Linked DNA regions of Homo sapiens. The protein of the gene in region 1 purifies or fractionates together with the protein of each later gene. This does not show direct contact. Each region holds a gene or a part of one and is shown on either strand. Other genes may lie near its edges.

Region 1 (5,674 bases):
TAATCCTCTGGGAAGCTTTTAAACAATGCTTATGCTCAGGCCTCCCATACCCAGTGTTATTAGGCTGTTCTCACATTGCTATAAAGAAATACCTGAGACTGGATAATTTATAAAGAAAATAAGGTTAATTGGCTCATGGTTCTGCAGGCTGTACAGGAAGCATGGTGGCATTTGCTTCTGGGGAGGCCTCAAGAAGCTTCCAATAGCGGCAAAAGGCAAAGGGGGAGAAGGCACGTCACATGATGGGAATGGAGCAAGGGCAAGGGAGGTGCTACACACTTTTAAATGACCAAATCTTGCAAGAACTCACTCATCATCGCAAAGACAGCACCAAGCCATGAGGGATCTGGCACCATGACCCAAACACCTCCCACCAGGCCCCATTTCCAGCATTAGGGATTACAATTCAACATGAGACACTGGCAAGGATAAATATGCAAACTATATCACCCAGAGATTCTGATTTAATTGTCTGGGGTTGGGGCTGGCTTTGGTATTTTTAAAAACATGTAGTCAGACTAGAGAACCACTGCAAAGCAGAGCTGCTCAGTGGCTCATGAATGTTGGTGCAGTGGTTCTCAATCTTGGCTGCCTGATAGAATCACCAAATGAGCATTGATGTTGGGCCTTATCCACAGAGATTCTGATTTAATTGGTCTTGGGTGTAACTTAGTCATCAGGATTTCTAAAATCTCCTCTGGTAATACTAATGTGCATCCAAGGTTGAAAACCACTCTGAAAGACTCTAGATTTTGGAGCTTCATCCATAGAAATTTCCTTTTAGGTCTGGAATGGAGTCGTGGTACATTTATTTTTAATAAACACCCCAGGTGTTTGTGTTGTTTGTACATAACTGAAGTAGAGGCTAAAAAAGGGCTGTACTTAGACATCTCTTCTACAGCATCCTCCAATGTAGCTAAAATAATAGAAAACTTACAAACCGAATAAGATGGTATTATACAATGTTAGGATCCTCTATTAGCACAGTTCACTAAATGACCTGTTGAGTAACTAATCTTTGTACAACATTGCTGTTCATAATGATTAGATATTTTCTGAATTGCTCCTCAAAGATCTCTGTGATCTATGTGTTGTTCTTAACACCCTTATTTTACTACAAATGTGCTGAGGGTCAGAGAAGTTCTGGGATTTGGGTAAATTCACAATAGTTGTCGTCAGGATGCTAACCCATGATTATTTGATACCAAATTTCATGTTATTTCATTTTACTTTCCAGAGTGTATATAAAGATAGTTGGAAAAGGCACAGTTAGTTTAATAGTATACCATAAAAACTAAGGATAATTACCATTGTTGGTTATTGCATAGTAAATTCTGCAAGTATTCTGAGTGGGAAATTTTGATTGATGGTAAACCTTGAAGTAGTCAGGTAAATCTTATTTGTAAACATTTGAAGTAAGAAACCAGCAAAGGGATGAACACATTGAAATTTTGGTGAGGACTTTGCAGCTTGTTTAGGTAATTCAATGAGCTGTATCTAGTTGAATAACTACAGCCTCCATCTCTTCCCTTTTGTCAGGTGTGCCAAAGAGCCTGAATTACAGTGGTGTGAAAGAGCTTATTTTAGCAGTCGACGGGGTGCTGTCTGTGCACAGCCTGCACATCTGGTCTCTAACAATGAATCAAGTAATTCTCTCAGCTCATGTTGCTACAGGTCAGTGAGTTTTGTAAACACCCTGGAAAAAATTCAGTCCTTGTCCTGTAAAGTCAGTAATTTCCCTTCTTTTTGTAGAGCTGCCCTTATTGTCTGTTGCTTGTCAAAACATTATAAAGTGTTTTCTATTACCAAGGGCCTTTGAAACCAGCCCACTTATTGATGTTGTCATAGCAACAATGATACCCACGACATTCTTGGGGCTGACTGCAGAGGGCTGAGGACAGACAGAACAAAGGACTAAAATGCACCCGCCACTTCAAGGCCTTGGACTCTGAATATTCAACTTCATCTGTTTGGCTTGGTGCCCTATCAGTCAAATAATAGGAATGAATTAAAAACTTAATCTTAATTGAGTATCTCCTATGTATAAGATGTTTTTCCTGGCACTGAAAATAGGAAGATGAAAGAGACACCAGCCCCACTCTTAAATTTCTAACAAGCTAATGGATGTGCTAATAGGAATTATGGTGGGGTCCCACACTGTATGATTAGAAATTCTGTAGCCATGTGAGAAAATTCTTATAATACTAGGTTTATACTAAAATTACTTTTTCAAGAAGTTAATTTTGTCTCTGATATGTCCTAGAGCTGGGAGGATAGGCAGTGGGAGGGCATTTACTGCCTCAAGAGAAAGCTCAGGCCAAGGATAACACATTAGGCTGCTAAAAAATGACTCAAGGAGTTACTTAGGGGCAGGGGACAGGAACACTAGTGACAGTCATTTGAAAACTGTGCTTTCTCAGACATCGTCATCTTCTCGAAGGGGCTTAGGTCTGACTTGAGGGAATTTACAGCATTCACTATGCCAATATTTCACTGCAAATGGAAGAATCTAGTAAACACTCAGGTTGCTATGGAGGAGACTTTACAGCCTGCTGATAGCATTTGGGACAGGAAAAAAATGGCAGTGAGGGTTGCTGCTCTAAGAAAGGTCTGTGGGGAGCTCTAAACGCTTCCTGGTTCCTGTCACTATCCTTGATATAAATTCTGATTACATACAAAGCCTGCAACCCAGAGATCCCTGGGAGCTGGTGAGCAGGGCTGTATAAGAAATAATAGTTCTGTCTTGGCTTTTTCCAGGGCTTGTCTCCCCTTCCATAGTAAGCTCCTAGGAATGCCAGACTCCAGAGATAACAGTGGACAGAAAGAGTTCCCATAGCGACAGGGCACTTTGCTGCACTAGAGTTTCCCCTGCCTTGTCTGTGTGAATGTAGCTGATTATCAGAGCAAACGTGGCTTCCTCTGAGTGCCCTGCCTCTGCCCCACCCCAGCAGGTCAAAGACAAAGTACTTGAAGTTGGAGTCAGAGCAGTCGCCCATGCGTGTGCAATCAGTGCTAATCTCCCTGTGCTTCTTTATCAACAGCAGCCAGCCGGGACAGCCAAGTGGTTCGGAGAGAAATTGCTAAAGCCCTTAGCAAAAGCTTTACGATGCACTCACTCACCATTCAGATGGAATCTCCAGTTGACCAGGACCCCGACTGCCTTTTCTGTGAAGACCCCTGTGACTAGCTCAGTCACACCGTCAGTTTCCCAAATTTGACAGGCCACCTTCAAACATGCTGCTATGCAGTTTCTGCATCATAGAAAATAAGGAACCAAAGGAAGAAATTCATGTCATGGTGCAATGCACATTTTATCTATTTATTTAGTTCCATTCACCATGAAGGAAGAGGCACTGAGATCCATCAATCAATTGGATTATATACTGATCAGTAGCTGTGTTCAATTGCAGGAATGTGTATATAGATTATTCCTGAGTGGAGCCGAAGTAACAGCTGTTTGTAACTATCGGCAATACCAAATTCATCTCCCTTCCAATAATGCATCTTGAGAACACATAGGTAAATTTGAACTCAGGAAAGTCTTACTAGAAATCAGTGGAAGGGACAAATAGTCACAAAATTTTACCAAAACATTAGAAACAAAAAATAAGGAGAGCCAAGTCAGGAATAAAAGTGACTCTGTATGCTAACGCCACATTAGAACTTGGTTCTCTCACCAAGCTGTAATGTGATTTTTTTTTCTACTCTGAATTGGAAATATGTATGAATATACAGAGAAGTGCTTACAACTAATTTTTATTTACTTGTCACATTTTGGCAATAAATCCCTCTTATTTCTAAATTCTAACTTGTTTATTTCAAAACTTTATATAATCACTGTTCAAAAGGAAATATTTTCACCTACCAGAGTGCTTAAACACTGGCACCAGCCAAAGAATGTGGTTGTAGAGACCCAGAAGTCTTCAAGAACAGCCGACAAAAACATTCGAGTTGACCCCACCAAGTTGTTGCCACAGATAATTTAGATATTTACCTGCAAGAAGGAATAAAGCAGATGCAACCAATTCATTCAGTCCACGAGCATGATGTGAGCACTGCTTTGTGCTAGACATTGGGCTTAGCATTGAAACTATAAAGAGGAATCAGACGCAGCAAGTGCTTCTGTGTTCTGGTAGCAACTCAACACTATCTGTGGAGAGTAAACTGAAGATGTGCAGGCCAACATTCTGGAAATCCTATGTCAATGGGTTTGGTTTGGAACCTGGACTTCTGCATTTTTAAAAGTTACCCAGAGATGCTTCTAAAGATGAGCCATAGTCTAGAAGATTGTCAACCACAGGAGTTCATTGAGTGGGACAGCTAGACACATACATTGGCAGCTACAATAGTATCATGAATTGCAATGATGTAGTGGGGTATAAAAGGAAAGCGATGGATATTGCCGGATGGGCATGGCCAGTGATGTTTCACGTCATTGAGGTGACAGCTCTGCTGGACTTTGAATTACATATGGAGGCTCTCCAGGAAGACGAAGAAGAGAAGGACATTCTAGGCAAAAAGAAGACTAGGCACAAGGCACACTTATGTTTGTCTGTTAGCTTTTAGTTGAAAAAGCAAAATACATGATGCAAAGAAACCTCTCCACGCTGTGATTTTTAAAACTACATACTTTTTGCAACTTTATGGTTATGAGTATTGTAGAGAACAGGAGATAGGTCTTAGATGATTTTTATGTTGTTGTCAGACTCTAGCAAGGTACTAGAAACCTAGCAGGCATTAATAATTGTTGAGGCAATGACTCTGAGGCTATATCTGGGCCTTGTCATTATTTATCATTTATATTTGTATTTTTTTCTGAAATTTGAGGGCCAAGAAAACATTGACTTTGACTGAGGAGGTCACATCTGTGCCATCTCTGCAAATCAATCAGCACCACTGAAATAACTACTTAGCATTCTGCTGAGCTTTCCCTGCTCAGTAGAGACAAATATACTCATCCCCCACCTCAGTGAGCTTGTTTAGGCAACCAGGATTAGAGCTGCTCAGGTTCCCAACGTCTCCTGCCACATCGGGTTCTCAAAATGGAAAGAATGGTTTATGCCAAATCACTTTTCCTGTCTGAAGGACCACTGAATGGTTTTGTTTTTCCATATTTTGCATAGGACGCCCTAAAGACTAGGTGACTTGGCAAACACACAAGTGTTAGTATAATTCTTTGCTTCTGCTTCTTTTTGAAAATCATGTTTAGATTTGATTTTAAGTCAGAAATTCACTGAATGTCAGGTAATCATTATGGAGGGAGATTTGTGTGTCAACCAAAGTAATTGTCCCATGGCCCCAGGGTATTTCTGTTGTTTCCCTGAAATTCTGCTTTTTTAGTCAGCTAGATTGAAAACTCTGAACAGTAGATGTTTATATGGCAAAATGCAAGACAATCTACAAGGGAGATTTTAAGGATTTTGAGATGAAAAAACAGATGCTACTCAGGGGCTTTATGAACCATCCATCAATTCTGAAGTTCTGACTCTCCCATTACCCTTTCCCTGGTGTGGTCAGAACTCCAGGTCACTGGAAGTTAGTGGAATCATGTAGTTGAATTCTTTACTTCAAGACATTGTATTCTCTCCAGCTATCAAAACATTAATGATCTTTTATGTCTTTTTTTTGTTATTGTTATACTTTAAGTTCTGGGGTACATGTGCGGAACATGTAG
Region 2 (3,578 bases), on another chromosome or scaffold:
CCTGTGTCAGCCTCCCAAGTAGTTGGGACTACAGGCGTGTACCACCATGCCTGGCCAATTTTTGTATTTTTAGTAAAGACAGGGTTTCACCATGTTGGCCAGCACAGCTGGTCAGAGCCACACTGAGCTCTGTAATGGTTCATTACTGGTTGTATAGAGAGCAAACATGCACCCCTTCCTTCCTTTGTCTTTTCGGAGTGTTGGTGCAGCCAAGGACACCTGGTTCTCTCCTCCTTTTCCAAATCAGCTCCTTCCTAACTCAAGAGTCAGGCTGAGGCCGAGCTTGGTGGCTCATTCCTGTAATCCCAGCACTTTGGGAGGCCAAGGCGGGCAGATCACGAGGTCAGGAGATCGAGACCATCCTGGCTAACACGGTGAAACCCCGTCTCTACTAAAAATACAAAAAATTAGCCGGGCGTGGTGGCGGGCTTCTGTAGTCCCAGCTACTGGGGAGGCTGAGGCAGGAGAATGGCATGAACCTGGGAGGCGGAGCTTGCAGTGAGCCGAGATTGTGCCACTGCACTCCAGCCTGGGCGACAGAGTGAGACTGTCTCAAAAAAAAAAGAGAGTCAGGCTGTAAATGTGAGGTCTCAAACTCCTGACCTCAGGTGATCCTCCCATCTTGGCCTTCCAAAGTGCTGGGATTACAAGCGTGAACCACCACACTTGGCCCAGTCTCCTACTTTTAAATGGGGGCAGCATTTGCCTTCCAGGCTTTTCCTTGTGCTTTCCAATCAACAATGAAAAACAGCCAGAGAAGAAGAGTCTAATTGTGGACAGGTGTTTGCAAGTGGTTGAACCAAGTAAATATTTCCATGGAACTGTCAGCACCGACTTCTTCCCCATAGACATTTGATGTCAGTTTTCAGAATGAGATTATTTTTTCTAATTTTTACCAGTCAAGCTTTGCTAGCAGGAACTGAGAACATTCAGAAGTCTGCCTCCAAAGGCAGGAAGTTTACCTAGTTTCATCTGAATAGGGTGCAAGGCCATGCCAAGGGGAAGTATTTGCATTATTCCCTAGCAGAACCTCGTACAAGGCTGCCAACTCCATCCGCCTAGTGAGGATACAGTGATATTCAGGCCAAATTGAATTTCTTCCCCCGGGGAAGATTATTTTGCTCCTTTGCTCTCTGTTTTGTTTTATAAGTAAAAGGTGTGGTTGTGAAATCCATCTTTTGTGTCCTGCTGCTGATCAATCTCAACATGACCCCAGGGAGCTCGGGCACAGGGGCCTTTCCCTGACCAGCTCCCCTGTTGTTTCTTAACTGGCTGCCTGGCCACCTCTTGCTCCAGTTGTAATGACTTTTGTCATGTAAGCATGTCTGAAAGGAGTCACAGTCAACTCTCAAGGTAGCCCTTCAAACAAGCGAGTGATTATAAGTATTGATATTCACTTCCCACACTACGACAAGAATCAGCAAAAACAGTAGTTTGGTGTCAGATACATTTAGTGACTCACTAAGATGACATTATCATTTTTTTATACATAAAAATACTTGTATCTTATTTAAGAAAAAAAGGAGGTAAAATAATTGAAACTGAAAGGGAACGCTTGGGAATTGTCTTATTAATATTGCTACTTTTTTTTTCTCTCTCACAGTTATTTGGGATCATGCAATGTAGAGTGATTTTTTTTTTAATTCAGGAAAAAATAATAATAATTTTCCCCTGATCACACTGCAACAGCTAATAGGCTTCTATGCCCTTTTCCCATTAATGGCCAGACATCTATGTAAAGAGTTTTGAGTTCCGCTCAAGTGGTTGAAGTTGCAGGCTCTATAGTAGATGTTAGCAGTATTCCTATCTTTTATAAGGTACTCTAGATAAATTAAATGTGGTTTTCTCCTGAAAGGTGTCCCAGCTGCATCTCTGGTGACCCCTGCTGATGTCATCAAGACAAGACTGCAGGTGGCTGCCCGCGCTGGCCAGACGACATACAGTGGTGTCATCGACTGTTTCAGGAAGATTCTCCGGGAAGAAGGGCCCTCAGCATTTTGGAAAGGGACTGCAGGTAGGCAGGGGCTGGAGCCATACAGAATGGCTGGCTGGCTCTAGCGTCCTCCCCTGTGACTCAGTGGCTATCTTTACCACATTTGTCCTGGTTTCAAGTCTCCCCTGCCCCTGCTTCTCTTTTTCAGCTCGAGTGTTTCGATCCTCTCCCCAGTTTGGTGTTACCTTGGTCACTTATGAACTTCTCCAGCGGTGGTTTTACATTGATTTTGGAGGCCTGTAAGTCAGCTGCTCAACTCCTTTACAAAGAAATCACTAAGTCCAAAACAAATGTTTGTTCTGTCTACAAAAGCATTGTTGCAACTCTTAGAAAACTGATAAGACAGAACCTTTAAGACCAATGCATTTAAAACAGTGAGCTTAAGAAGCATTTGTGTTAAGCAAGTAAAACTTGACAGAGTGACATCGTACATAATATTAAGCAGCTATTTGGGGGATTTTAGGGAAGCAGCAAATTTTTTTAAAAAAGACAGGATATCCTCTGTTGCCCAGGCTGGAGTGCAGTGGCATGTTCTTGGCTCACCGTAGCCTCAACCTCCCGGGCTCAAGCGATCCTCCCACCTCAGCCTCCTGAGTAGCTGGGACCACAGAGGCATGCCACCACACCCAGCTAATTTTTGTACTTTTTTATAGAGATGGGATCTCACTGTGTTGCCCAGGCTGGTCTCGAACTCCACCAGCCTTGGCCTCCCAAAGTGCTGGGATTACAGACATGAGCTACCGTGCCTAGCCAGGAGGCAGCAGATTAAAATGCTGTGTAAATAATTGTCTTTTTTCACATAAGCAAATACTGAACTTCATGGCGTTCTCATTATGTGGATTTTATTATATGGCCCTTTCACAGAAGTAATGTAAATGTATACCAGTAACACTTTTGTGCATTTTCTTTCAAAGTCCCAAGCCCTTTTGCATCTCTGATATTTCATTATTCACCACAATTTATTATTAGTTAGGTGCAGATGTTCTTGAAGCTAATTTACTGGAAAAACCAATAGGTTTGAAGAGAGATTTTGCCCATGGATATAATCACTAGTGAGCTGTAGGCCAGAAATTGGGCTTCTAAAAGCTTACCACTTGAAGCTTGCACTGAGAAGAAGAATTACAAGTTGAATTTTCTGGGTGGGGAAGTTGTACCCAAAGCAAGCAATTATTAGCTTTTCAGCAGAAGACCAAGTACCATTCCTGAGTCCTCACATCAGAAACCTGTGAACTCCTCTGTGCCCAAAGGCCATATAGGGAATCAGCTGCTGAACCAAGTGGAGGGACCTATGCAAAAAAAGTGAGAACAGCAGTCTTACAGTTGCATTGTAGAAATGTGAGGCTTCAGGCTTTTCCATGCTTCTTTCATCTTCTGTAAAAGAACTAAAGCTATTTCTCTCTCTCTCTTTTTTTTTTTTTTTTTTTTTTAGACGGAGTCTTGCTCTGTCGCCCAGGCTGGAGTGCAGTGGTACGATCTCGGCTCACTGCAACCTCCACCTCCCAGGTTCAAGTGATTCTCCTGCCTCAGCCTCCTGAGAAGCTGGGACTAAGGGCGCCCACCACCGCGCCTGGCTAATTTTTTTTTT

What was found. Proteins that work in one complex are often made in the same cells at the same time.
Region 2: the proteins of SLC30A8 (region 1) and SLC25A12 purify together in Homo sapiens (affinity purification with mass spectrometry; one large-scale study listed by BioGRID and IntAct). This does not show direct contact.

What each region holds. Positions count from the first base shown.
Region 1 is NC_000008.11:117,169,495-117,175,168, forward strand, and holds part of SLC30A8 (proton-coupled zinc antiporter SLC30A8), read left to right. Parts: intron 1-1,539; coding exon 1,540-1,674; intron 1,675-3,041; coding exon 3,042-3,187; 3' UTR 3,188-5,674. UniProt on the Homo sapiens protein: Proton-coupled zinc ion antiporter mediating the entry of zinc into the lumen of pancreatic beta cell secretory granules, thereby regulating insulin secretion.
Region 2 is NC_000002.12:171,786,225-171,789,802, reverse strand, and holds part of SLC25A12 (electrogenic aspartate/glutamate antiporter SLC25A12, mitochondrial), read left to right. Parts: intron 1-1,855; coding exon 1,856-2,014; intron 2,015-2,141; coding exon 2,142-2,232; intron 2,233-3,578. UniProt on the Homo sapiens protein: Mitochondrial electrogenic aspartate/glutamate antiporter that favors efflux of aspartate and entry of glutamate and proton within the mitochondria as part of the malate-aspartate shuttle.